Homo sapiens: one gene and its partners. The protein of the gene in region 1 purifies or fractionates together with the protein of each later gene. This does not show direct contact. Each region holds a gene or a part of one and is shown on either strand. Other genes may lie near its edges. The genes, in order: EPB41, SGSH, ACP1, NUP155, TMEM33, LRPPRC and FKBP1A.

Region 1 (3,500 bases):
AGCTAGATGTGATGGCACACACCTGTAGTCCCAGCTATTTAGGTGGCTGAGACAGGAGGATCACTTGAGCCCAGGGGTTCAACACCAACCTCAGCAACATAGAGAGACTCCCCATATAAATTTTTAAAAATTAAAATAGGCTGGGCGCCATGGCTCACACCTGTAATCCCAGCACTTTGGGAGGCCAAGGCAGGCAGATTTCTTGAGCCTAGGAGTTCAAGACCAGCCTGGTCAAGATGGCAAAACCCAGTCTCTAAAAATATAAAAAATCAGCCAGGTGTGGAGCCTGTAGCTCCAGCTACTCAGGAGGCTGAGGTGGGAAGATCACCTGAGCCTGGGAAGTTGAGGCTGTAATGAGCCATGATCGCACCACTGCACTCCAGCCTGGGTGACAGGAGTAAGACCCTGTCTCAAAAAATAAATAAATAAATAAATAAAAATAAAATAATCCTGTGCTCTAATATAGTTAAATCACGGGGAGTTTCTCACTTGAAACTTTTCTATCATAACTTTTTTATGATTTAATGCAGATATAACAAATATAATGCATGGGCAAAAGTTTTCTGAGTGAATATTAATGTAGAAAGTACCAAAACCTCAGTCTATGTTGTGTCCGGTGCTATGATTCAAACATATAGAGGGCCTACCAAAAGCTGATCTGCATTAGGGTGACTTTTGTGGAGGATGGAATCAGGTTGCATCTATAAATAACAATTAACTACAAGAGTACAGATTATATCCAATCTTATTTGATTATTTCCACCTATTTCCAAAAAAAGATGGAGGTGTTCCTGTCTCTATTAATAGATATTAGATAACAGAACAGAATTGTAGATATACATTGAATATAGAATTAGGTAATAGAAAATAATCTTAATAGAGCATCTATTGCTTCTTCCAATCTAATCAATATAAACTCACAGTCATATTTCTTATCCATTCCATCAGACAGATAATCTTGCCCCTTCCTACCCACCCTGCCAAAATTTCTTTAACCTTACCCAAGCTCTATTCCACATAGCTTAGAAACAATTTTAATCTCCACAAGCAGAGATCACCCTGAGAGTTGAGGGCCTAGATTAATTGGGTAGAACTGACTCAAAGAGTCATCAGCTACGGAAGAGGGAGAGCAGCAATTCAATAAACAATCACAGTTTAATCCACATAGATTTAACTTGGAGATAAGAGATAACTTGCAAAAAAGAGAACTGCTCTTAATTGCAATAATAAAATAATAAAAATAATAAAACAATAAATAATTTAAAAGCATGACGCCAGAATGTCTCTGGAATTTCTATATAGAAAGGACTTTTGGGCTGGATGCTGTGGCTCATGCCTGTAATCTCAGCACTCTCAGAGGCCAAGGCAGATGGATCACTTGAGATCAGGAGTTCAAGACCAGCCTGGCCAACATGGTGAAACCCCGTTTCTACCAAAGAATACAAAAATTAGCCGTGCATGCCTGTAGTCCCAGCTACTCAGGAGGCTGAGGCGGAAGAATCGCTTGAACCCGGGAGGCAGAGGTTGCAGTGAGCCGAGATCATGCCACTGCATTCCAGCCTAGGCAACAGAGCAAGACCCTGCCTCAAAAAAAAAAAAGAAAGAAAGGACTTTTAAGGATAGCAATTTGACTGGAAGGAGAGACAGAATATTTGGATATCAAGCTCCCAGTTCCTACCCAGATTGCATGTTTACTTAGGGTGACTTAGTGGGAAGCTGACGAAGCTAGCGGGTAGGGGATATTAAAGTCTCTTCAAGCTACTCCTTGAATTATACTGGCTGCTGTTCTCCAAAGTTCAAAGAGCTAGCCAATTTATTTTCAAATATTTTAAGTGGATACAATTCAATTTAAATAAAAAATCAGCAAAATAAGTATAAACAGACTTTCATCATAATCGGATTTTCCCAAAACCAATATTTGAAGCAAAGTGTCAGTAAGGTGGGTAGTTCTAAATGAGATCAGCACTCAATATAAAATATCAAAGTTCTCCTTTCTAACACCTCCAAGTTCTGAATACTCCTCACTGCTACAGCATTCTTCTTTATCTTTCTATGTATTCATTAAATAGCAGCAGAGTAAATCAAAATACTAATCTAACCCAGTGTGCACTCCAGAGTAAGTTATATTGCATTTGACTAAACACACCATGAACCCACTCTTAAAAAGGACGCACAGTAAAAGCCACCAGTGACATACCAAGAAACTTAAATGAACAACAAAAAATAACATACATTTGGCATCTGCCTCTCCTCTCCTCTAACTAAATGCTATGATAAATGCAATCAAGCAATTACTTTTTCTTTTTTCTCTTTGAGACAGAATTTCACTCTGTTGCCCAGGCTGGAATGCAGTGGTCTCAAACTCAAAGGCTCAAGTGATCCGTGGGCCTCGGCCTCCCAAAGTGCTGGGATTACAAGCATAAACCACTGCACCTAGCTAGCAATTACTTTTCAATAATTTTGGATCCTTCACATACATAAGGCCCATAACTGATTAATTCAGAGGCCATCTTTGGGGGCTTTATTTAGAGGAAAAAAACAAAGTTATTCATAAGAAAAGTTATTGGAATTATTGTTGTTTAGCTCACAAAATAAAGTGATTCCATGTTCAAGTAATTAAAGAAAAAATTCAAATATAGAGGTAGCAATGAATCCACATCTGAATATGCATTTAACCAAACACAAACTTGATGAAACTCAGAAAAATACAGGCCATTGGCTGGGTGTGGTGGTTCATGCCTGTAATCCCAGCACTTTGGGAGGCGGACGTGGGCAGATCACGAGGTCAAGAGATTGGAGACCATCCTGGCCAACATGGTGAAACCTCGTCTCTACTAAAAATACAAAAATTTAGCTGGGTGTGGTGGTGTGTGCCTGTAGTCCCAGCTACTCAGGAGGCTGAGACAGAAAAGACAAGAAAAACAAAAATACACTGGCAACACTTATGCTGTCCTGCCTCTTAGATAACAAGGAAACAGACTGTGGTCTACATCTATGCTCCTCTTGATTTCAGAACCAAACTCAGCCTCTCATGGCCACTGATATTCTAAAGTTATGAAATCAGATTAGCAATATGAAACTGGATTACTACATTAAAAAAAAGTAAGCAAACTCTATCATTCACACCAACAATTACACACCAGGCATGGTGGCTCATGTCTGTAATACAGACTAAGCTGGGCACAGTGACTCATGTCTGTAATCCCAGCACTTTTGGAAGCAGAGGTGAGACGATCATTTGAGCTCAGGAGTTTGAGACCAGCAGTTTGAGACCAGCCTGGGAAACAATAGCAGGACCCCGTGTTTTAAAAACGAAAAAAAAAAGCTGGGCATGGTGGTGCACGTCTGTAGTCCCAGCTGCTCAGGAGGCTCAGGTGGGAGAATCACTTGAACCCAGGAGTTCAAGGCGGCAGTGAGCCAGGATCATGCCACTGCCCTCCAGCTTGGGCAACAAGGTAAGATCCCTGTCTCTAAAAACATATGTATACAGGGCCAGGCAC
Region 2 (3,500 bases), on another chromosome or scaffold:
AGTACACCACCGTCGGCCGCATGGACCAAGGTGGGCTTGCAGAACCGGGCACTGGAGGGGGTGCCACGGCCGGGGTCCCCCATCCTGGGCCAGCGCCCTCTTAGGTCACGGCATAATGTGGGTGAGGGTCCCAGTGTGGCAGGCCCTGTGCTGCAGCTGGCAGAGCCCACATTGAGAGGAGGGGCCTGTGGGTGGCATCAGGACCCAACCCCGGGGCTGCCCTGATGTGGACCTGCTCCTGGGCTGGGGCCTTCGGGTGCCCCAGAGGTTGCGTGAAGACTTCAGATATTTCCAGTCACAGGACCTGGGTCAGATTTGGGGGTTTGGAGTTCCTTAGCATATGCAGATGGAGATCTTGAGGTCTGTGAGTTTTTTGTGGTTGATGGCTTACAGCAACCAAAATTTGTACTCCCACAGTTCAGGAGGCCAGAAGTTTGAAATCAAGGTGTCAGCAGGGCCATGCTCCCCTGAAGGCCTAGGGGAGACCCTGCCTTTCCTCTTCCAACTTCTGGGGGCTGTGCCAGTGCTGGGCGTTCCTGGGCTGGCGGCAGAATCGCCCCCATCCCCGCTGAAGCCTTCACATGGCCTTTTTTCCTGTGTCTCCTCTTTGTGTCTCCACTTCTTCTTTTTTTTTTTTTTTGAGACTGAGTCTTGCTCTGTCACCCACGCGGGAGTGCAGTGGCGCAATCTCGGCTCACTACAACCACCACCTCCCAGGTTCGAGCGATTTTTCTGTCTCAGCCTCCAAAGTAGCTAGGACTGCAATCGCACCGCACGCCACCATGCCCAGCTAATTTTTATATTTTTAGTAGAGACGGGGTTTCACCACATTGGCCAGGCTGGTCTTGAACTCCTGACCTCGTGATCCGCCCACCTCAGCCTCCCAAAGTGCTGGGATTACAGGTGTGAGGCACCGCGCCCGGCCTGTTTCCGCTTCTTATAAGGACCCCGTCGGGTTTAGGGCCTACCTGAGCACTTCAGGATGATTTTGTCCCAAGATCTTTATTCGTGAAGTTCCCCTTTCCAAACAAGAACCCCTTCACAGATTCCAGCACACATGTCTTTTGGGGTCAGGGACGACAGGAGGTCAGGACCTTTGCCATTTCCCTATTGGTGCCATTAATTCTTAGTGAGCTGGGAAGGAGCGGGTATAGAGGAAGCCTTGTCCTCTGGCCCCAGCTGGGAAGGAGCGAGTATAGAGGAAGCCTCGTCCTCTGGCCCCTGCCCTATTTGCTCCATGGGACAGACACGAGATTCCGGAGAACTCAAAAGCCGGCGGGCACCAGGGAGCAGCTGCCTGGGGGTGACACAGAAGTGCCAAGGGATGGCTGGAGTCCCTGGAGGCCCATTCGAGGCCTGCTCAGGGAATGGGAGCTGGGCGGAGCTGGGCAAGAGCTGGGCAAGAGCCAGGGCCATTGGGAAGAACTACAGGGTGCTTTCGAATCCGGAAAGCGCTGGAGCCCAGCGGCCGGATGCAGCAGCAGGTGGGTCTACACACACCACCCGCTGCCTCCCTCCGTGTCTGCGGCTGAGCTCTGCTTCTCGGCCCCTCACCACAGGAGTTGGACTGGTGCTCCAGGAGCTGCGTGACGCCGGTGTCCTGAACGACACACTGGTGATCTTCACGTCCGACAACGGGATCCCCTTCCCCAGCGGCAGGACCAACCTGTACTGGCCGGGCACTGCTGAACCCTTACTGGTGTCATCCCCGGAGCACCCAAAACGCTGGGGCCAAGTCAGCGAGGCCTACGTGAGCCTCCTAGGTATGCCTTTGTCTGTCTCCGTCAGGAAAGGTGTGGGAGTGGATCTGGGACGGGGCCATGACCTGTCAGATGCTGCTCCACACCCATTACCTAATGTGGCTCTCATATCATCTGGGTGAGGAAGGGACTGTCACTCCCACTCTACAGAGGAAAAGAATGAGGCTCAGAGAGGTGAAGTAAGCTGCTCAGGATTGCACAGCTGGTAAGCACTAAGCTAGGATTCTCGCCTGGATCCTGCTGCTTTCAAAACCATTGCCTTTTCCCCGCCTACCTCCGATGAGCTTCAGAATCACCTGGGATGCTTGTTAATATCCAAATTGCAAATCCCAGGGTGTCCGATTCAGTAGATCTTGGCGGGCTCAAGAATTTGCATGTCTGACAAGTTCCCAGGTGATGCCGATACTGTGGGCCTGGGGACCCCTCTCTGAGCATCCGTGCACCCCATCCTGCCTTCCTGGGGGACCCAAAGCACCTCATGACCCTGCTCATTCCTAAAAAGACCTAGGACATCTAGTCCCATGTTATGGATGTGCAGACAAAGACACGGGTGCAGGAAGACTTTGTGAGGGGCTCGGGGTGACCCCTTCGGCACAGGGCAGAGGCTCGTGTGTCCTGCCCACTGCCTGGCAGAGCCTCCAGGTGGGGTGGGCCCGGGACAGCAGGAAACTCAGGTTCCCTTTCCCTCCGAGCTCGCGGCCCACATCTCTCTTGGGGCCCACATCTCTCTCTGGCCCCAAATGATGAGCCAGGAGCACTGTGGCCACACCCACCACAGGGGCTGGAGTACACGAGCTACCAAAAAGGAGACTTCTTTTCCAGTCCATGGGATTTTAGAAGGATCCTAAATGTCACCGAATCAGGGCCTCTTGTTATACCATTCAAGGCACTGAGGCCCAGAGAGATGACGTGGCGGTGAGAGGTGTCGGCTCGACAAGGCACCTCCCGCTGCTGATTGGATTGGAGAAGGGAGCCGCCCAGAGTGGCGTAGGTTCGGCCCTTCCGAGGGCAGCTCCTGTGTGCTGAGGGCTCTGCTGCTCTGAGATGCCGCGTCCCTTCCAGACCTCACGCCCACCATCTTGGATTGGTTCTCGATCCCGTACCCCAGCTACGCCATCTTTGGCTCGAAGACCATCCACCTCACTGGCCGGTCCCTCCTGCCGGCGCTGGAGGCCGAGCCCCTCTGGGCCACCGTCTTTGGCAGCCAGAGCCACCACGAGGTCACCATGTCCTACCCCATGCGCTCCGTGCAGCACCGGCACTTCCGCCTCGTGCACAACCTCAACTTCAAGATGCCCTTTCCCATCGACCAGGACTTCTACGTCTCACCCACCTTCCAGGACCTCCTGAACCGCACCACAGCTGGTCAGCCCACGGGCTGGTACAAGGACCTCCGTCATTACTACTACCGGGCGCGCTGGGAGCTCTACGACCGGAGCCGGGACCCCCACGAGACCCAGAACCTGGCCACCGACCCGCGCTTTGCTCAGCTTCTGGAGATGCTTCGGGACCAGCTGGCCAAGTGGCAGTGGGAGACCCACGACCCCTGGGTGTGCGCCCCCGACGGCGTCCTGGAGGAGAAGCTCTCTCCCCAGTGCCAGCCCCTCCACAATGAGCTGTGACCATCCCAGGAGGCCTGTGCACACATCCCAGGCATGTCCCAGACACATCCCACACGTGTCCGTGTGGCCGGCCAGCCTGGGGAGTAGTGGCAACAGCCCTTCCGTCCACACTCCCATC
Region 3 (3,837 bases), on another chromosome or scaffold:
GTCTGAGTAATTCCAACAAGAGCAAGACTCACTGGGTTTGCAAACTTTCTTCCTATGAAGACAGCCTGGCACTTCCACATGGTACAGTGGGGAAACTACTCACTTTCATCTGGCAACAGCTTATCCTCCAGATACTAGGGAGTCAAGGATCAAACGTGTCTCCTCCCCATGGCACTGCCTGGGACCCTCATGATACTGAGGTCAGGAGTGCAGATGTCCTGGCCAGGCAGCTGTGCATCACTGCACAGGAGGGCACAGCGTAGAGGCAACATGTCCAGAGGATGGTACTGGGCAAGGACAGTTCCAGCTGTAGAACCTCAAACTTCCTTCAGAAACTAGACATGATGACATGGGGCAGCAATGTGCTTATTTTCATCATTTTACTTCCTTATCCTGAAGATAAAATATGCACACCTAACATCACAGATCATGTAAAAAGGACAATACAATGTTTTCAAATGCTTCCTTACCTGTCAATAAAAAAACAGGCAGACACCAGATTTATATCTCTAGTTGTATTTTTATAACTCCCCAGTTTATTTTGAAATATTCATGATTTTGACATTATCTCAAAATACACAGAAATTACCTTACATCTGCCTATACATTTATTAAATGCTGATGAAGAATACTTATTCAATATTTAAGCATGCCAAATAATAACACTTTTCCCAACTTTTAAAATTATTTTAAAAAATAAGCCAATTTATATTGGACATTTGGGTTACATGTGCATATAAAAACAGTCATATTCCTCAACTGACCATAGACTAGCATACAAGTGTCCTTCTTTCTGGATGTAATTAAGTTTCAGAGGCAAAGTGGTTCAGATGGGAGCCAATGGGCTGACCTCCTCATGAAGTAAACTCGACAAAAATCATGAAGTATTGAAGGTGCCAACGACTGATTCCATAAATGTTTCTCTCTTCCCTATCTTTTCAATATACAAGTGTGCACTATGGGTGTGTAGAAATTAAAACACTTCTAATCTAGACTGTGAGCTCCTACGGAGGGGACTACTGTCAATCCACAAAAGGCCCTAGGGAAGAGAGAGGTAGCACTGGGGAGCAGAGGGCACCTGCCCTCCAGGCCATCCACACAAACCTACTGAAGAGGTAGACTCGATTATCTAAGTCTCAACAGGCTTAGATGTTGACCTGGGCCTTCAAGTGAGGTTTTCCTTCATTGTTTTATGTTGCTTGTTCTACTATTTTTGTAACTGGGGCAAAGTGAGATGTTCAACTAGTCTAAGAATGCTTAAAATACCCCATAAGCTGTCTGAATCAAAGATTTTTATTGATTCTCCTGCCAAACACAACTGATTTCCATCTACAATTACTTTTTAAGGTAAGAAACAGTAAGTCAACTGAACAAAGAGCTGGGCTTTGGGCCCTGGAACGTGATTACACACCGACTGAGAAATGCAGGACCTCAGGGTGGGGTCTAGTCAGGCTGGCCGCAGCAGGGCACGAACCTGCCTCAGTGGGCCTTCTCCAAGAACGCTCTGCAGCACCTGACACACTGCTGGTACACCGTCTCAAAGTCAGAGTCATTCCCCTAAATGGACAGGAAAAAGAAGAAAATGGCAAAACCTGCATAACAAAAACATCCTTAACACAATCTCATCTGTTATTTAATATGGCAGGATACAAATGTGTTGGGTCTTCATATTAGCCCTAAAACGTGAACTGTACTTACATAATAGGGATCTTCAATAATAAGTTGTTTTTGTGGATCATAGCTCCCAAGTAGTTCAATTTTAGCTTTGCAGGTTTTAACTTGATTACTTTTTCTATTCAAATCTCTGTAAAATTGAAATATGAACTTAGTTTTCTGATCTATGGTTTCAAGTTAAACAGGGACATCTGCTAGGGTGTTCTGAAACATCCATATCAAAATCAAGACAGAATGACCTAATTTGAAATGAAACGGAACACTCAGCAGGCCCGTGTGGCCCCTTCTGCAGCTGTATGCCACTGCCCTCTCTCTAGGCAAGACAGTTTGCGACAGCAGCTTATTCTCACTGATTCTGTTACACAAAATATACAATAATTATATTTTCTCCCACAAAATACATTTTAAGACAATCAAGTTTCAGAGATAAAGGTCATAGAAAGGAACCCAAAACACCATCTGAACCAGTCCCAAAACAGAGGGCTACCAATTCCATCCTCAGGTGTCTTGACACAGCACTTCCCACAGCACGACCCACTCCTTAATTACTCTTCCATCTTTTATTCCTTAAGCCTCTGCCCAAGCTGAAAACTCAGCTTCACTCTAGACTTCCACCCTTAGCTTTCACATTGCTACAAAAGAAAAAGGCAAACTTAACTAAGCGCCTCCATTTATTTAACAAATTTCGACTGAGCACCTGCGACAGATGAGTTGATGAGTCAGGTACGTGCTTTATGTGGGAACGGAACAGCCAAGAGCTCCCATGCACGAAGTTTTACAGCTCAGGATTAGGTGCAGGAATGAGAACTGCAGGCAGGCCTAAGTCTAATGCACAATCTGGCCTAATGACAGGGCAGCAGAATACCTCTATCAAGAAATGAATTTAAGCTGACCCACGAGGGGCAAATAGGAGCCGAATGACCCAAGAAGCAAGGAGGAGCTTCCAGGCAGAGGAACAGCACGTGCAAATGTGAGGCTGCAGGAACTCCACTTGCCCCACACGCAAAGAAACACGGTGCTCAGTGCCAGTCAAAGCAAATGGGGTCTCCTAAAAAGGTGTTTTTACGATGCCTATGGGCTATGGTGTCAGCAAAAACAATGAGAACAGAATAAGGACTGAAAAATAAAAATTAAAAAATACATGCATTTTAATGAAGGTCCTAATTAATAAAAAATAATTGAAACTGGTGCATCCCTATCTGTTCATTTGTACAAAAGTAATTAAAAGCACAAATAGTTTATCTTCATCAAAAACATGAGATATTTATGAATAAGTAGTGATGCAAGTCAGAATCCTGGAGTGACATTAAATTATGATCCGTTCCCGATGACGCCTTGAACATGGGACTGGGGCAGGTCAGGAGGGTGGTGACTGAGGCAGGGGTGCATACAGCAGGGCCCTTCCTCACTGAGCCTAGGCTTAAATCCCATGACATCCACCACATGCTAGCTGTGTGAACTCGGGGACATAACCTAACATTACCGTTTCTCACTTCCTTCTTTTACAAGATGGGATAATAATAGGAACCTATGGTTGCAGAGCTTTGACCTGAGAATCAATAAAACACTGCCCTGCCCAGGAATCATTACAGCAAAAATATCAAAATCGTTCTCATGCAGAACAATATGCTTGATACAAAACTATAACAGCCAAGCTAGTTTTCCAATTAAATCATGCTATTAACAACTAGACTTTCCCTTTTCTAAGGTGTATTTCCTTGTAAATACCTAAGAGACAATTCTAGATTACTAAGTTTTTTGCTGTTCTAAATAAAATAATTCTACATATGGTGACCATCACTGACTATTAAAACCTTTAAAATAGAAAAAGTAAATCTGGACAACAAATTACTTGGCCCACTGCTGAACTGAGAGTTGAACAGAAATATTCTTCAAAAACAGGATTACCTCAGATTGCTTTCATCCATACATAGTATATAATCAAATGTGGCAAAATCTTCTTTGGTAATCTAAAATTGAATAAGAAGTCAAAACACAGTGTTTATACCATTCAAGCCTAGAGGATGCAAAGCAATACTAAAAGAAAAAAAAAACTGCTGTATTTGAGCCTGTTACTCACTAATAAACAATTAAATAATTTTTAGGGTACTTTTAAGTTAAAATAGAGTTAACCTATTTCTCAAAATTGTACTGCAAAGAAAT
Region 4 (3,500 bases), on another chromosome or scaffold:
AAGTTTTTTGAGATATGACTTTCCCTTTAGGCCTGAAACCAGTAACTGTTCCTACCTTCACAAGGGAATATTTCAGGACTACTTTGTGTTGGGTCAAAACTAGAATATTCTCTCTGTACCTTTGGAACCAACACACAACAATTTTTTTGTGGCACTCAATCCTTTTGTTTGCCCGGTTGATGAGCAGTACATTATTATAAATACTTCATTTTCTTTTTGTAGATAATCCCACCGTTTCTGGCATGTCAGATATGGATTATCCTTTGCAAGGACCTGGTTTGCTGTCCGTACCCAACCTTCCAGAGATCAGTTCCATCCGAAGAGTTCCTCTCCCACCTGAACTTGTTGAGCAGTTTGGACGTATCCTATTACTTTGTATTTATTTTAAAAATGTTAAAATTGGTATTTTTCATTCTTATAATTCTTGTTCTATGTTTAATTAATGTGTTATATATTCATTTAAGGGTTTTATTTAAAATTCGTTTAAGTATATGGGTTCCATGTTGTATTAAAGAGTGGACACATTGTGATTTTTTACGTAAATATTAAGTCAAAAGCTATTGAAACAAGTTAAAGAAGAATAAGATTCACCTCTGTCTGCCTTACATCCACACTACCTCAGATATGCAGTGTAATTGCATGATGGGTGTGTTCCCTCCTATCAGCAGAGCTTGGCTCACAATTGACAGTGATATATTCATGTGGAACTATGAGGATGGGTATGTATTTAAGGCTGGTTTGCTTTAAGGGTGATTGGAATTTATATAAACTTTACTGTAGCTAGTGTTCTCATTAGAAGCTGCTTGGTTTATCTTTCATTCATCTAGCCTTTGGGTCAGTGCTTCTCAGTATCAGTCATCTGGAGATGTTCAAATGTGCATTCTGTCTTAGTAGTCCTGAGTGAGGCTCAAGAGTCTGCATTTCTAACAAGCTGCCAACTGCTGCTGCTGGTTTAGGTGCCATTCTTGAGTGGCAGGAGCCCGGGTCCCAAGCTGTTAGCCCGTAGTAAAAATAGATGTTGGCAATTCATTGAGAGATGATTGGACATTTTTAAAGACTTCTGTTTTCCTTGCATTTCTATGGAGTAGGCATGTGATATTTATTTATTTTGTTGTCATTTTGTGAATTTGACCCGTGTGTAAATTATATGTATAGAAATGATTCTGAGTGAAAGCCTAAGGTACTTTTGCTTAAATACAGCATGTTGGTCTGGTGATCTCCCTGTTGACTTTTTAGAGATAGATTTTGTTTTACTTCCAGTTGTCCATTACATTATCCTTAGATGAGGTGTGGGATAAACATAGGAAAGCCCATATAATTAAGATGTTACTCTTGTTCCTGAGTAATTAATGATCTTTTTAGGAACACACGTGCATTAAAAAGACACTGTATCGGCCGAGCACGCTGACTCAAACGCCTATAATCCCAGCACTTTGGGAGGCTGAGGTGGGTGGATCACCTGAGGTCAGGAGTCCGAGACCAGCCTGGCCAACATGGAGAAACCCTGTCTCTACTAAAAATACAAAAATTAGCCAAGTGTGGTGGCACATGCCTGTAGTCCCAGCCACTCGGGAGCTGAGGCAGGAGAATTGCTTGAACCTGGGAGATGGAGGTTGCAGTGAGCTGAGATAGTGCCACTGCACTCCAGCCTGAGTGACAGAGCGAGACTCCATCTCAGAAACAACAACAACAAAACACTGTATTATTGAAACAAAATTGAAACTAAATGACAGCTTAACACCTATAGCTTAAACGAAACCATTTTTTTCTACTAGAAGTTTCGTAGCAATTTTTCATGTTGAAATGTAATAGTTGTAATAGCAGTGATGTATGATTGTGATTATTTTTCATGTACCCTGAATGTTCCCCACTTTGTTATGTTACCATAACATATTCATTTTTATACTAAATAATGAAACCTTTTTTGTTTAGGTATGTATCTTTTCAAGAGAAGTCATTGCAAAAATATTACAGAACAGATAAATGTGAGAATAATTGTTTTCTTTAAAATATGTTTTCGGCTGGGCATGGTGGCTCATGCCTGTAATCCCAGCACTTTAGGAGGCCAAGGCAGGCAGATCACCTGCAGTCGGGAGTTCGAGACCAGCCTGACCAACATGGAGAAAGCCCATCTCTACTAAAAATACAAAATTAGCCTGGCATGGTGGCACATGCCTGTAATCGCAGCTACTCGGGAGGCTGAGGCAGGAGAATCACTTGAACCTGGGAGGCGGAGGTTGTGGTGAGCCGAGATCGCGCCATTGCACTCCAGCCTGGGCAACAAGAGGGAAAACTCCATCTCAAAAAAAAAAAAACACTAATGAAATTTTTTACATTTCCATTAACATCCAACATATTTATTTAACACATACATATTGATCTTATGTATCTGACACTGTTGTTGTGGTAGGAACAGTACTGAATGAGATGAATGTAGTTCTGCCCTCATGGAACAAACAGTCCTACCTTACTGTGTGTCTTAGTCCGAGCTGCTAAAACAGAATACCATAGCCTGTGATCAACATGAATTTCTTTCTCATGGTTCTGGAAGCTGGAAGTCCAAGATCAAGGTCTGGTGAAAGCCCACTTCAATGTTCATAGATGGCTATCTTTTCACTCTGTCCTCACATGGCAGAGGGGTAGGGGAGTTCTTTGGGTCCTCTTTTATAAGGGCACTAATCCCATTCATGAGATATACCCTCATGACCTAATAACCTTTCAAAGACCCCACCTACAAATACTATCACATTAAGAGTTAGGATTTAATATGAATTTTAGGAGGACACAGATATTTGATCCATAGCAGTGTGTGTTCATTTAAAGAAAAATTATTTGAAGAATGTACTTATTTTAAAAAATCAAGGCACAAGGTCCACAAATTCAATTTTGTAAAATTTATACTTAGTTTAAATATTCAATTGGCTTTCTATTATAAATCCTAATTCCACCTGGATGATAAAAATGTAATCTTGGTCATTTCATTGTTCTCTAACCCCCAAATATCTCAGCATTGGATCGTAGTTCCAAGAGGCTGTGCCAGTTATCAAAGGGCCCTGTGGAATGGCATGATGTAAGAGGATGGGGAATCCTAGTCCGCATAAGTTGCCATTTAGCTATTTTGTTCCTGTGTGGATGGCCTTTTCAGGATGACTGGAAGCTTTCTTGAAAGTCTAGATCATATTTTTTCGTGGTATTTTTTCTGCTTCTTGTTCTCTGAGCTTCTTAGATCTTTAGTTTGATGTCTTCTATTATTTTTAGAATTTTTTTCAGCTGTTATCTTTATTTCTCTCTCTCTCTCTCCTTTTCTGTTCAGCCATTGTCTTTTTTTTTTTTTTTTTTTTGAGACAGAGTCTCGCTCTGTCGCCCAGGCTGGAGTGCAGTGGACTATCTTGGTTCACTGCAACCTCCACCTCCTGGGTTCAAGCACTTCTTGCCTCAGCCTCTGGAGTAGCTGGGACTACAGGTATGGGCCACCACACCTGGCTAATTTTTGTATTGTT
Region 5 (3,500 bases), on another chromosome or scaffold:
ACAATTTTCACCTTATGTGCTGACTCATCCTGTATAAAGATGCAACTACTATTCTACCTTTTTGTGTCCTGTTTTACTTCTATGGTTAGAAAAAAAGCAACAAATCTACTTTTCTAAACAAGTATTTAATATGCTTGCACAGAAAGACAGGAATAATAATATTTGGAGTAATGCATAATTTTCCAAAACCTGCCCTTCCTGTATCTCCTGTCTTCGTGAGAGCACCATTACAACTCTTAGGCTTCCAAGCCAGAAACCTGTGGGTCTTTAATTTACTCTTTTCTCTCAAGCCCTAATATCCTATCTCCTAATACCTTTCATATTTGTCCCCTTTTCCTTTTACCACTGGATTAATTCAGGCTCTAGACTACTCTAATAGTCTCCAAATTGATATTTTTCTTCTCTTGCTGAGCTTGCAATCCATTTTCTGGAATATTTCTAAATCAGATTTCATCATGGGGGTTCCCAGCCTCTCTATGTTACAATCTTCAAAGGCTCTCCTTACCTCAAAATAAAATCCAAACCCTTTCATGATCTAGTCCTTTCTACCATCTACCTTTGTGGACACAGATATTTATCAATTCTCTATATACTTCCTGAGCTCAAGTATGCTAAGCACTTTTCAGGCACCCATGTGTCAGAACTCAGGCTCATTCTTTAAAAGACTTGGCTTATGTTCCCACCTCCTCAGTGAATTCTTATTTGTCTCTGTCTGTTCTCTATGCTTTCAGAGCACCTTCATCATCACACTGACTTACATAGCTGTCTAATTTATTCAGCAGTGAGTACCTCTGAAAGAAGATATTTTAATTCCACATAAGTTCATCAACATACAATCACTGTTTTAACCAATCAGTCAAATGAATAAAGCTAGAAGACATGAGGACTAATGAAGTCAATCGCTTTCACTAAAGTCACATAGTTCTTTTATTACTGGCTGCATCGCTGGCACAGACCAAGTCAGAGTTCCTTAACAGCACGGACAACAGAACTTTGAACAATGATAAAATTTTTGCATATCTGTGCTGAAGGACCAGTCAGAGAGTTCCTTAATAGCACTGACAACAGAACTTTGAGTAATGACAAAATTTTTGCATATGTGTGCTGACCCACAGTTGCCATCAGCAACACATGGCTTTTGAGTACCCACCTGAACTGTGCTCAAAAGGAACCAAGTTCTAAGTTTTATGAATTTTATTTAAAGGTCAAATGTGGTTGCTGTGCTGTACTGGACAGCACAGCTATAGACAATCTGCACTAGAGATCCAAAAACAACTGAAACCACCAACTTGAGAATAAATATCGTAGGTGAAAATGGTACAAATTGTGAATAGAGATGGTCTCAAAACCTTTAATTAAAAAAAGTGTAGTACTGAAAATGTAGTTTTATAGCCTGTTTATCAATATTTACAAGCTGAAATATTTTCCATTACCTTTCCACTGGTTTGGTTAAAATGGGTGCTTATAAGACAGCTTTGAAGATGTTTACCAGCACATATTTGTGTTATCTTGATTCACTGCTATCCTTTCCTTTTCAGTCCACTGAAAACTGAATTCTAGATGTACTAATATGATTTAAGGGTATGTGAAGAAAATGGGAATGGAGAAGGAGGCACAAAGAAGCACAGAAAAACAAATATGCTGATTAAAATAACAGATGTCAGGGCAAGAGAATATAAGATAATGTCTGAAATGAATATAGGGACCAGAAAGAAAAAAGGCTAAAACTCAAGAAATCAAGTAAAAATGAATGTTAATTTGCTACTAGAGACTCACTAAGAACGAATGTCTAAAATAAGTTCTATTTTAGAAAGTATTATAAAAAAGACATTGTCTAATAGAGCATAAAAACGCTCTGAACAGAAAATCAGATCATAGAATAATGAAAATGAACTAGTAAGAACATAACAGTCTAAGTACTTTTAAAATATTACTTCGCTTCACCCCCAGAAGGAGTTATTTCCTCTACCAATGAAGAAATCCAAATAAATAACCTGCCTAGTCACACAACTAGTTAATGATGGGCCAGCATTCAAATTCAAGTTCTTTTTACTGTACTTATGAAAATATACAGATTGCTGTAATGCACTCATTGGATTTCTAGCTGAATTCTACATTATTTTAAACTTAAAAATAGATTATCTTAATATTAGTATTTGAGTATCATTTTAGTTTTACTCCAATGCTTGAGATCAGAATGCATAATTTAGTGTATATTAATTTAAGCCTCCATTCCTGAAAACTACAGTAATTCCCTAAAATTTCTCTGCTTCCCCATTTTTCTGCTTCAAACTCTTCTGGCACAAGGGTATCAGAAGAATATTCTGACGATGTCAAAACCATCATTCCCATTCACCTAAAAGATAAATTCCAAACTTCTTACCCTAAAACTCAAGAAGTTTTATAATATAGCTCCAATATACCTTTCTAATCTTAGCTCCAGCAATTAGCCATTCAGAATCTCCATTAGAGTCAAAACAGCTCTACATAAAGTTCCTCAAATATGGCTTGTGCTTCTCGTCTCTCTTGCCCCACCTAAAATGCTTTTCCCTATTCAAAAGCTTTACTCCTCCCACAATCTCAATTTTGTGAAACCTTCCTGGGCTCATCTATCTTCTGGCCCAATGATCTCTCCCTTCTGTGGACTGCAGTACTGATATAATAAAGCAAACATATGGCATTCATTATCTATTGGCTTGTGAATTCTGTATCCTAACCATTGTTTATCTAATTGACACGTGTTTTGTTTCTTCAACTAGGAAAGTTGAGAGTGGAATCTATGTCTTATACATTTTAAAATTTGCTAAGTTTTAGCAGTGCTTTAGAGGTGGCGTAGATAACTGCAGTCTCAGTTTCTAAGAACAAATACAACCACTTCCTCACCAACCCCAGTACATTCTAAGGCCTAGAACTTAAATTTACAAAAACACTGCTTGCTTCTAAAGTCTAACACATTAGCTAAGTAACTCTTAAGAATTGCGAATACTATATATTCACAATACTCTCAACAAATAAAACATGCCTAAAATAATCATCAGCTTACCGACAATATGGGTTTCTTCGAGACGAATATCGAAGGGTAAGAAATCTATAGTATATAAAAGGTTGGAGCAAACTTCCTTGACCACTGAAATAAACAAATACAAGCGTGATAAATATACATTTCAATTCATGTGTATACTCTCAAAACTTAAAAGCAATTCAACTGGAGAATATGTGTATCTTCATTCATCAAATGGTCATAGTGAAATCTATCATGTCTAAATCCAAGTTATCCTTAAAAAAGGATATAAAAGAATGTACATGATTGGTAAAGAGTAAAATGTTGTTTAATTTTTTTATAAATGTATTCTTATCTGTATTACTTTTGAAATTTTTTAAAATACTAAATAAATCAGAAAATGTTAAATAATTCCGTAATTACTAATTGATGAAATCAAGTTGTAAAGCTTCATAAAATATGCAAATGAAAAGTGACTTATTTTATATATATAAAAAGA
Region 6 (3,500 bases), on another chromosome or scaffold:
CAGGCAATTCTCCTGCCTCAGCCTCCCGAGTAGCCTGGATTACAGGCATACACCAACACTCCCGGCTAATTTTTCTACTTCTAGTGGAGACGGGATTTCACCATGTTGGCCAGGCTGGTCTCAAACTCCTGACCTCAGGTGATCCACCTGCCTTGGCCTCCCAAAGTGCTGGGATTGCAGATGTGAGCCACCAGGCCTGGCCTATTTTGAATATTTGAGGTGGGTGAGTGTCAGCCTTTCTAAATTACCTTTGTCCTGAAAATTCATCCTGATACAGCAAACATTTATTTACTTATTAATTTTAATACTTTGATCTGTACATATTACAAGTATGCATATACTTGAAAATAAACCTGGGTTTATTTTCGATCCTTTGCTGCCCTCTGCAGGTCTATGAATATAAATCTTTGGAGCGAGGTAAGTCCCTCTAATATTGCAAATCATAAGGTGCTTTTAACGTTACAAGCCAATACCATAGGTTATGTAATAATTTTTATCATGAAACCTATATTTGGTTTTCTACTAAAATTTTGCTGGCAGAGTTAATGTTGAAAAATAATAGTTATGTGTGTCTTTTAGTGTTTGTGAATCCAATTGATAAGAATCCAATGGGAGGAGGGAGAGGATCAGGAAGAATAGCTAATGGATGCTGGGCTTAATACCTGGGTGATGGGATGATCTGTGCAGCCGACCACCATGGCACACGTTTACCGATGTAACAAACCTGCACATCCTGCACATGTACCCCTGAACTTAAAATAAAAGTTGGAAATTAAAAAAAAAAGAATCCATGAGAATAGACACTTTAATCTTTAGACCCCTTTTGTTTTAGTCTCATTAAGATGAATGGAAGTTGTTATTAAATATCTAAAAAATGTAAGTTATTTAGCAGTTCAGGATATTTTACTTTATATTTCAGTAAAACTTAATATAAAATGAGGAAACCAGTTCAGTGTCAACAAGACCAAAAGCAATATAATGAGGAATAATATTGGTCAATAATTCCTATAAGCTCTTTTCTATTTATAACAGTTCATTCAGAGTGATGTTTATATATCAATTTATAAATCAGTTTAGAGTCTTTCTGTGTGACATTTCACAAAACATTGCAGTTTTCCTTCAACATGGATTTGTTTTTGTTTTTAAAAGACAAACCTATTATTTAAAAACAAAACAATCTCCTTGGCGGGTGGGGGTGGTTTTGAATTACTGTGAAATAGAATAGTACCTTACTGGGGAGAGGTTTTATTATTTCAAGAATTCAATTTCAGATTGTGTTTGTTCTTGTTTGCTTCTCTTGCTGCAATGCACGAATTTTCTGTCTTACCAGATAACAGAATTGTTGTACAAGGATGGACGTTATTGCCAGGAGCCTCGAGGACCGACGGGTAGCGTTTCAATTTCGATGATTGTAACTTATCCACAAATCCATTTTTCTGTGTAATGATGGGTTAGGAGGATTACAGCAGTAAATACTTTATTTTTTAAAGTGGAATTTGAAAACATTTGGTTATAAATCTTTATATTGATTACAACATTTTGAGATCTAAAGTGTTTGATTTTGTTACAATTATTTTTTCTAAAGACAGGGTTGGGAGGCTTTTTCTTTTCAGATATTGGGGAAATGTTTCTTCTAACATCTATGGAAATAGGCTTAAAAATCAGTGATTCTTAGTATTTATGTGCTTTTAATGTTTTGCAGGTGTAGTTAATTTTAAACATAAAATGTAGCGAAGGTTCTTGTGGATTTCCGCTTAAATGTAATTTATTGCCCCAAATACATTGTTTTGACATTTAATGATTTTCATTTTTCATATAATGAAGCTAGACTATATAGTTTTCTGTAAGATGGTACCCCTCTTGAAAGTTTACATTTCTATCCTAGGTATTACTGTAACATGGCCCTATACATTTTATGCTTGAATGCAAAGGAAAATTACTGTTGTTACAAAACATCTTTGTTAATCTTGGTTTTTCATTGGCTAATAGGCAGCTCTCCACAGGATTACTGTATCTGCTTATTAAAATTGTTTAACTTTCTTTACTCAACATTTAACAATCCTTTCTAATTTTATGTGCTTCCCTAAATATTGTCCACAAAAAAAAAACAGTATAGAAATGTGTACAAGACATTTATTTATTCTTATTACGTGTGATTTGGACAGGAAAGGGGTAAGGCCTTGGGCAGGACCACTTCTGTCACAGAGTGGTGGAAAAAAAATAGATTGAAGTAAGATTCAGTACTGAAAAGCTGTCACTCGGTCTGAAAATAATTAATATTCCTTTCACTCACCAGTTAGATATGTGCTCCCAAACCACATAATCTCTATGCCTCAGTGATCATTGTTGCCATTTCAGAGCCTCTCATCAGGGTGACATCTCACACCAAAATGATTTCTTATAAATTAATCTTGATAACATGACAGTCTCGGTAATTTTAGTGGAATGCTTTCTCTTGTTTTTTTCCACAGAAGCTGTTGGCTATTTTCTTTATAACTTGATTGACAGCATGAGTGACTCAGAGGTACAGGCCAAGGAGGAGCATTTGAGACAATACTTCCATCAGCTGGAGAAGATGGTACCATTTCGTTTTTTGCTATATAATGCCTGTCCTGCCTGACATGTATCTATTAGATTTGAAATTGCTGCTTTTAAGTACAACCAGACCACTTCTCAATGACATGCAAGAGTTGGAGACTTAAATTATGTCTGAGATAATTTCTGTTAGACAAATTTCAGTTTGGTTGTCTAAAACTCAGGTTTTTTCCCCCCTCCCTTCCCTTCTCACAGAATGTAAAAATTCCTGAAAATATCTACAGAGGCATTCGTAATCTCCTGGAAAGCTACCATGTTCCTGAATTGATTAAGGTGTGTGTGAAATAGCAATCAACTGGATAAAATGCTTAACTTACATATAACAGCATGTTAAAATTTTATTTAAATATGATGCTTTTGGTCAGAAAAAAAATTTGTTTCAATGACAGCCATTAAAACGAAGCTTTTCATTGATTGTTCATAAATACTATTTATATATTCATAAATATATTTATAACGTTAATTACATTGATTAATAAAGTATGAAGAGAATGTCTAAAATTTTGGAAAGATGAAAAGTAGTAATATGAGGTGAGACTTACAAATTTGCTTTTGATGTTTGCTGATGTATTTTTACGTGTGTTTTCTAATTCTGGGCTAATTTAAATTTCAATTTTAGGATGCTCACTTGTTGGTTGAGAGTAAGAATTTAGACTTTCAAAAAGTAAGTAGGATTTTGACTAGATTCTACATGCTATAATACCCATATTTAATGAGTATTCTGGATTGTGTACTTATAAAACCAGTGATTCCTCACATTTTTATCATCTTGTATACCTCTAAGAAGTTGGTAAAACCTGTTCCCCACCTCAGAAAAATCAACATATCTAAGAAATTTGCATATAATCTCAGAAGGTTTGTAAATCCCTGGAGTCCATCCATGGATTCCCCAATTAATATCCCTG
Region 7 (3,500 bases), on another chromosome or scaffold:
TGCATTGTTGCAGAATTAGAAGCATGCATGTATGCATCCAAAGTGTTACTTAAGCTGTGCTATAAAGAAAAGAGCCTGTCATGCAGTGGGGAGTGGGGGCAGTGTGGTGGCACCTAAGCAAAGGGGCAGAGACCTCCATGTGGGAAAAGGCTTGGAGCATTCGAGGAATGAATGCAGGCCAAGGTGGCTTGAGCTCCTGGGAGAGGAAGAGCAAATGTAACAGAAAGAGACAGTAGCATCTAAGAACTGGTTATTTCTACCTCCCCGACTTTCTGCACTGCTAGAATACACCTGGTCAAAATCAAAGGGGTCCAGGGGAGGGAATGCAGAGACTTGGTTAAGCTTTTTAGCAGGAAAAGAAAACAAAAAAACAGAAGAAAAAATAGAAGTAAAAATAAACAAATGTCACCATGAGCACCAAAGGGAGAACTGAATGCTATGTGATTAAGTTATTCATAACCTTGGCTTCTTCCATGGGAAACAGCAGGTGACAATATTTTTAGAGAAAATTCCAAGGCAGACAAATGATTTCCAGTTTATGGATACAATAAACCCCTCAGTAATTCATAAAAATCAGTTTAAGCCTAAAAATGTTCTAGTTAAAACATCTATGAGTAAATAGGTGAATTTATGGTATGTAAATTATATTCAATAAAGCTGTTACCAAGAAAAAAAAAGGTCATGGACCCCACTGAAAGGAACCAGAGCTCTTTGAAAGATGGCTGATAATTGGACCAGAGTAGTGAAACCGAGAAATGGATGAAGGAATGGTGGGAGCCTGTCAAAAAGGTACTGGAGCCAGCTTAAAGGGCTCCTACTGGCCAAATTTAGGATGATATTAGCATCAAAAAGAATAATGGGTATCATTGATCTTAAGGCCCTGACAAAAAATTTCAGCCCACAGTACAGTCAAAGCAAATAGAGGGGGAAAAAGTCACTTGCCCCCACTGGGAATGGCAATACCCCATCAGTTAACATTCATTTTTCATTTTAAAAATTGGTAATTAAAGGCTGGGCACGGTGGCTCATGCCTGTACTACCAGCACTTTGGGAGGCTAAGGAGGGTGGATCACTTGAGGCCAGGAGTTTGAGACTAGCCTGGGAAACCTGGCGAAACCCGTCTCTACAAAAAATACAAAAATTAGGACAGGTGGCATGCACCTGTATGCCCAACTATTCAGAAGGCCGGATGGGAGGCCGGGATGGGAGTCTGGGAGGTCGAGGCTACAGTGAGCCATGATCAAGCCACTGCACTCCAGCCTGAGTGACAGAGACACTGTCTCAAAAAATAAAAATAAAATTTGGTATTTAAAGGTAAAGAATTACTTTACCTTATCTTATAGAAGGATAACAGCTAATAAATTTAGAAAGAATGAAGGAATTTTAAAAATCAACACTTTGTGAATGCCAGTGACTTCTTCAGGGGAGAATGATCAGATGGTGTAAACACCACTAGGTGAAAGGCTGATGAGCAAGAGACCATCTATGGCTACCTAAGCACTCCACAGATCACTGCTAAATGCAAAGGGAAAAATGTACCTTTACAGAAAAGATCAAATTTAGCATCACAACTAGTGATGTTTCCCATGTGTGCTGAGGATGAAGTACTCACACTAAAATGTTTAAACGGAATCTATTCAGACACTTAAAAGATTAAACATCCGGTTCAGAAAATCAAGGCAGGGAACAAGTTAAACAATACCATGAGAAAACAGTAAGACAGATGTGGAGTATTCTATAACTAGCCTGCTCTCTTTGAAGAAATCAGAGTTATTAAGAAAAAAACAGCGTAAGGACTCTTCTAGACTGAGATTACAGACATAACAACTGCGATGAGTGAGGCTCAATGGAACTGTGGTTTTAAAAAAGAGCAACACTTTGGAGACAACTGGGTAGTCTCGATAGGCATTTGCTTCACAGCAGGCATCGTTACTCCCATTTTATAGACAGCATGTGGAAGCTGGGAACTGTGGGACAATTTGTTCAAGCTCTCATAGCCCGTTGTATGGCAGGGTCAAGATCAGAACACAGCGAAGAACCCACATGCTCTTTGGGGATCACTGTCCACCTGGCACCACTTCTGCCCACTGCCTGAGCTGGCACTCCACACACCTGGGATACAACCAGTGTCCTGTTTCTGCCTTTGCCCCCAAAAGCCCATTGTCCACACAGTAGCCAGAAGGAGCGTGGGTTGGGGGGGCGGGGGCGGGCATTAAAAGCCAAGCCAGCCAGTGGCTCTCACCTGAGTTAGAAAAAGGCAACGTTTTTATAAAAACCAACGAGGCTCCACCATCCCCTCATCTCCTGCCACATACCCTTTCACACAATCCACTTCCTGTTCCTCTAACGCACCGGTCTTCTTACTGTTCCTCTAATGCACCGAGCAGGCTCCAGCCTCAGGGTCCTGCACTAGCTCTTCCCTCTGCCTGGATACTCTAGACAGCCCTGTAGCTCCCTCTCCAATGTCCTTTGAGTGAATGTTAAAATGCCATTTTTTTCAGAGGCCTTTTCCAATCACCCTCACGAAAAGCAGCCAACTTCCCTTCCCATCCCTCACTCTGCTTTAATCTCTCCAGCGCTTCTTACTACCTGATGTGCTCCATGGCCATACTATCAGTCTCCTCATCATAAGCAAAGCCCCACCAGATCAGGTCTTTGTCTATTTAGTTCACTAGCCATGTCCCTAGAGCCTGGCTTGCTGCTGTTGCTCAAAAAACATCTGCTGTGGGAAGGCAAAGGGACTTGTTGCAGCCCTGCCCAACAGTTACAGCCTGTGTGCCTCAAGACAGCACACGTCAGGGGAAGCCATCTGAGGCATCTCTGCTGAGGGTGAGCCTCCCTCCAGACATCAGATCACCAACCAAGAGATACCTAGCAAGGGAGTGGATGGAATAAAGCAGAGGAGAGGGGGGAACAAAGCTAAGGAAAAGCAAGGGGCTTGAGGGAGGCTGCAGCAAAGTGGCCACACCTGTCCCGGGAGCCTCAGCAGCCTTCCCAGTCAACCTCCTGAGGACATGAGGTTGAGGGGCTCCTGGTTTTTCTCAGTCAGAAACCGGGAGGCTATACCTGACTTAAACCTGATCCCAAGGACAAAATGTCCAGTTAGTTACTTTTTAAGAAGAAAAAAGAAAACATTCCTTCAATCCCCTTGGGGCTGCTCTCACAATGGCAGGCACACGGCCTGCTGAAGTAAGTAAAAGAGGTCTAAACCTAGCTGTGTGCCAGGACAAGCTAACAGTAAAGATGACGAAGCTACTGGAGGCAGCAGGGAGGCGCCATGAGAATTCCCTGGCTCCTAAAGGCACTTACTTGGCAGCTTACCTTTCCACCACCTCCCTCCCACCTCAATGCCTGTCATGCTCCTAGGAGATGCTTAGCTGGTGATAGTGAACTTTGTATTTTCCCTCTGGTACCACAGAGGTAGTGCAGGCATTCCTTTGAGGCCTTGCTCATGCTGTGCTCTGCCAGAAGGTCACGGAAGTCACCAGAGGGACCCTTGA

Evidence for each region.
Region 2: the proteins of EPB41 (region 1) and SGSH fractionate together in Homo sapiens (co-fractionation; one large-scale study listed by BioGRID). This does not show direct contact.
Region 3: the proteins of EPB41 (region 1) and ACP1 purify together in Homo sapiens (co-immunoprecipitation; one large-scale study listed by IntAct). This does not show direct contact.
Region 4: the proteins of EPB41 (region 1) and NUP155 purify together in Homo sapiens (co-immunoprecipitation; one large-scale study listed by IntAct). This does not show direct contact.
Region 5: the proteins of EPB41 (region 1) and TMEM33 purify together in Homo sapiens (co-immunoprecipitation; one large-scale study listed by IntAct). This does not show direct contact.
Region 6: the proteins of EPB41 (region 1) and LRPPRC purify together in Homo sapiens (co-immunoprecipitation; one large-scale study listed by IntAct). This does not show direct contact.
Region 7: the proteins of EPB41 (region 1) and FKBP1A purify together in Homo sapiens (co-immunoprecipitation; one large-scale study listed by IntAct). This does not show direct contact.

Annotation. Positions count from the first base shown.
Region 1 is NC_000001.11:28,917,569-28,921,068, reverse strand, and holds part of EPB41 (protein 4.1), read right to left. Parts: intron 1-3,500. UniProt on the Homo sapiens protein: Protein 4.1 is a major structural element of the erythrocyte membrane skeleton. It plays a key role in regulating membrane physical properties of mechanical stability and deformability by stabilizing spectrin-actin interaction. Recruits DLG1 to membranes.
Region 2 is NC_000017.11:80,210,334-80,213,833, reverse strand, and holds part of SGSH (N-sulphoglucosamine sulphohydrolase isoform 1 precursor), read left to right. Parts: coding exon 1-30; intron 31-1,559; coding exon 1,560-1,763; exon of another isoform or gene 1,764-1,910; coding exon of another isoform or gene 1,911-1,965; intron 1,966-2,646; coding exon of another isoform or gene 2,647-2,786; exon of another isoform or gene 2,787-2,822; coding exon 2,823-3,382; 3' UTR 3,383-3,500. UniProt on the Homo sapiens protein: Catalyzes a step in lysosomal heparan sulfate degradation.
Region 3 is NC_000002.12:274,947-278,783, reverse strand, and holds the end of ACP1 (low molecular weight phosphotyrosine protein phosphatase), read right to left. Parts: intron 3,645-3,837; coding exon 3,583-3,644; intron 1,805-3,582; coding exon 1,699-1,804; intron 1,558-1,698; coding exon 1,480-1,557; 3' UTR 501-1,479; downstream 1-500. UniProt on the Homo sapiens protein: Acts on tyrosine phosphorylated proteins, low-MW aryl phosphates and natural and synthetic acyl phosphates with differences in substrate specificity between isoform 1 and isoform 2.
Region 4 is NC_000005.10:37,361,107-37,364,606, reverse strand, and holds part of NUP155 (nuclear pore complex protein Nup155), read left to right. Parts: intron 1-222; coding exon 223-360; intron 361-622; coding exon 623-719; intron 720-3,500.
Region 5 is NC_000004.12:41,948,929-41,952,428, reverse strand, and holds part of TMEM33 (transmembrane protein 33), read right to left. Parts: intron 3,128-3,500; coding exon 3,044-3,127; intron 1-3,043. UniProt on the Homo sapiens protein: Acts as a regulator of the tubular endoplasmic reticulum (ER) network by modulating intracellular calcium homeostasis. Mechanistically, stimulates PKD2 calcium-dependent activity. Suppresses the RTN3/4-induced formation of the ER tubules.
Region 6 is NC_000002.12:43,947,490-43,950,989, reverse strand, and holds part of LRPPRC (leucine-rich PPR motif-containing protein, mitochondrial precursor), read left to right. Parts: intron 1-389; coding exon 390-417; intron 418-1,330; coding exon 1,331-1,388; intron 1,389-2,471; coding exon 2,472-2,578; intron 2,579-2,790; coding exon 2,791-2,868; intron 2,869-3,214; coding exon 3,215-3,259; intron 3,260-3,500. UniProt on the Homo sapiens protein: May play a role in RNA metabolism in both nuclei and mitochondria. In the nucleus binds to HNRPA1-associated poly(A) mRNAs and is part of nmRNP complexes at late stages of mRNA maturation which are possibly associated with nuclear mRNA export.
Region 7 is NC_000020.11:1,386,555-1,390,054, forward strand, and holds part of FKBP1A (peptidyl-prolyl cis-trans isomerase FKBP1A), read right to left. Parts: intron 1-3,500. UniProt on the Homo sapiens protein: Keeps in an inactive conformation TGFBR1, the TGF-beta type I serine/threonine kinase receptor, preventing TGF-beta receptor activation in absence of ligand.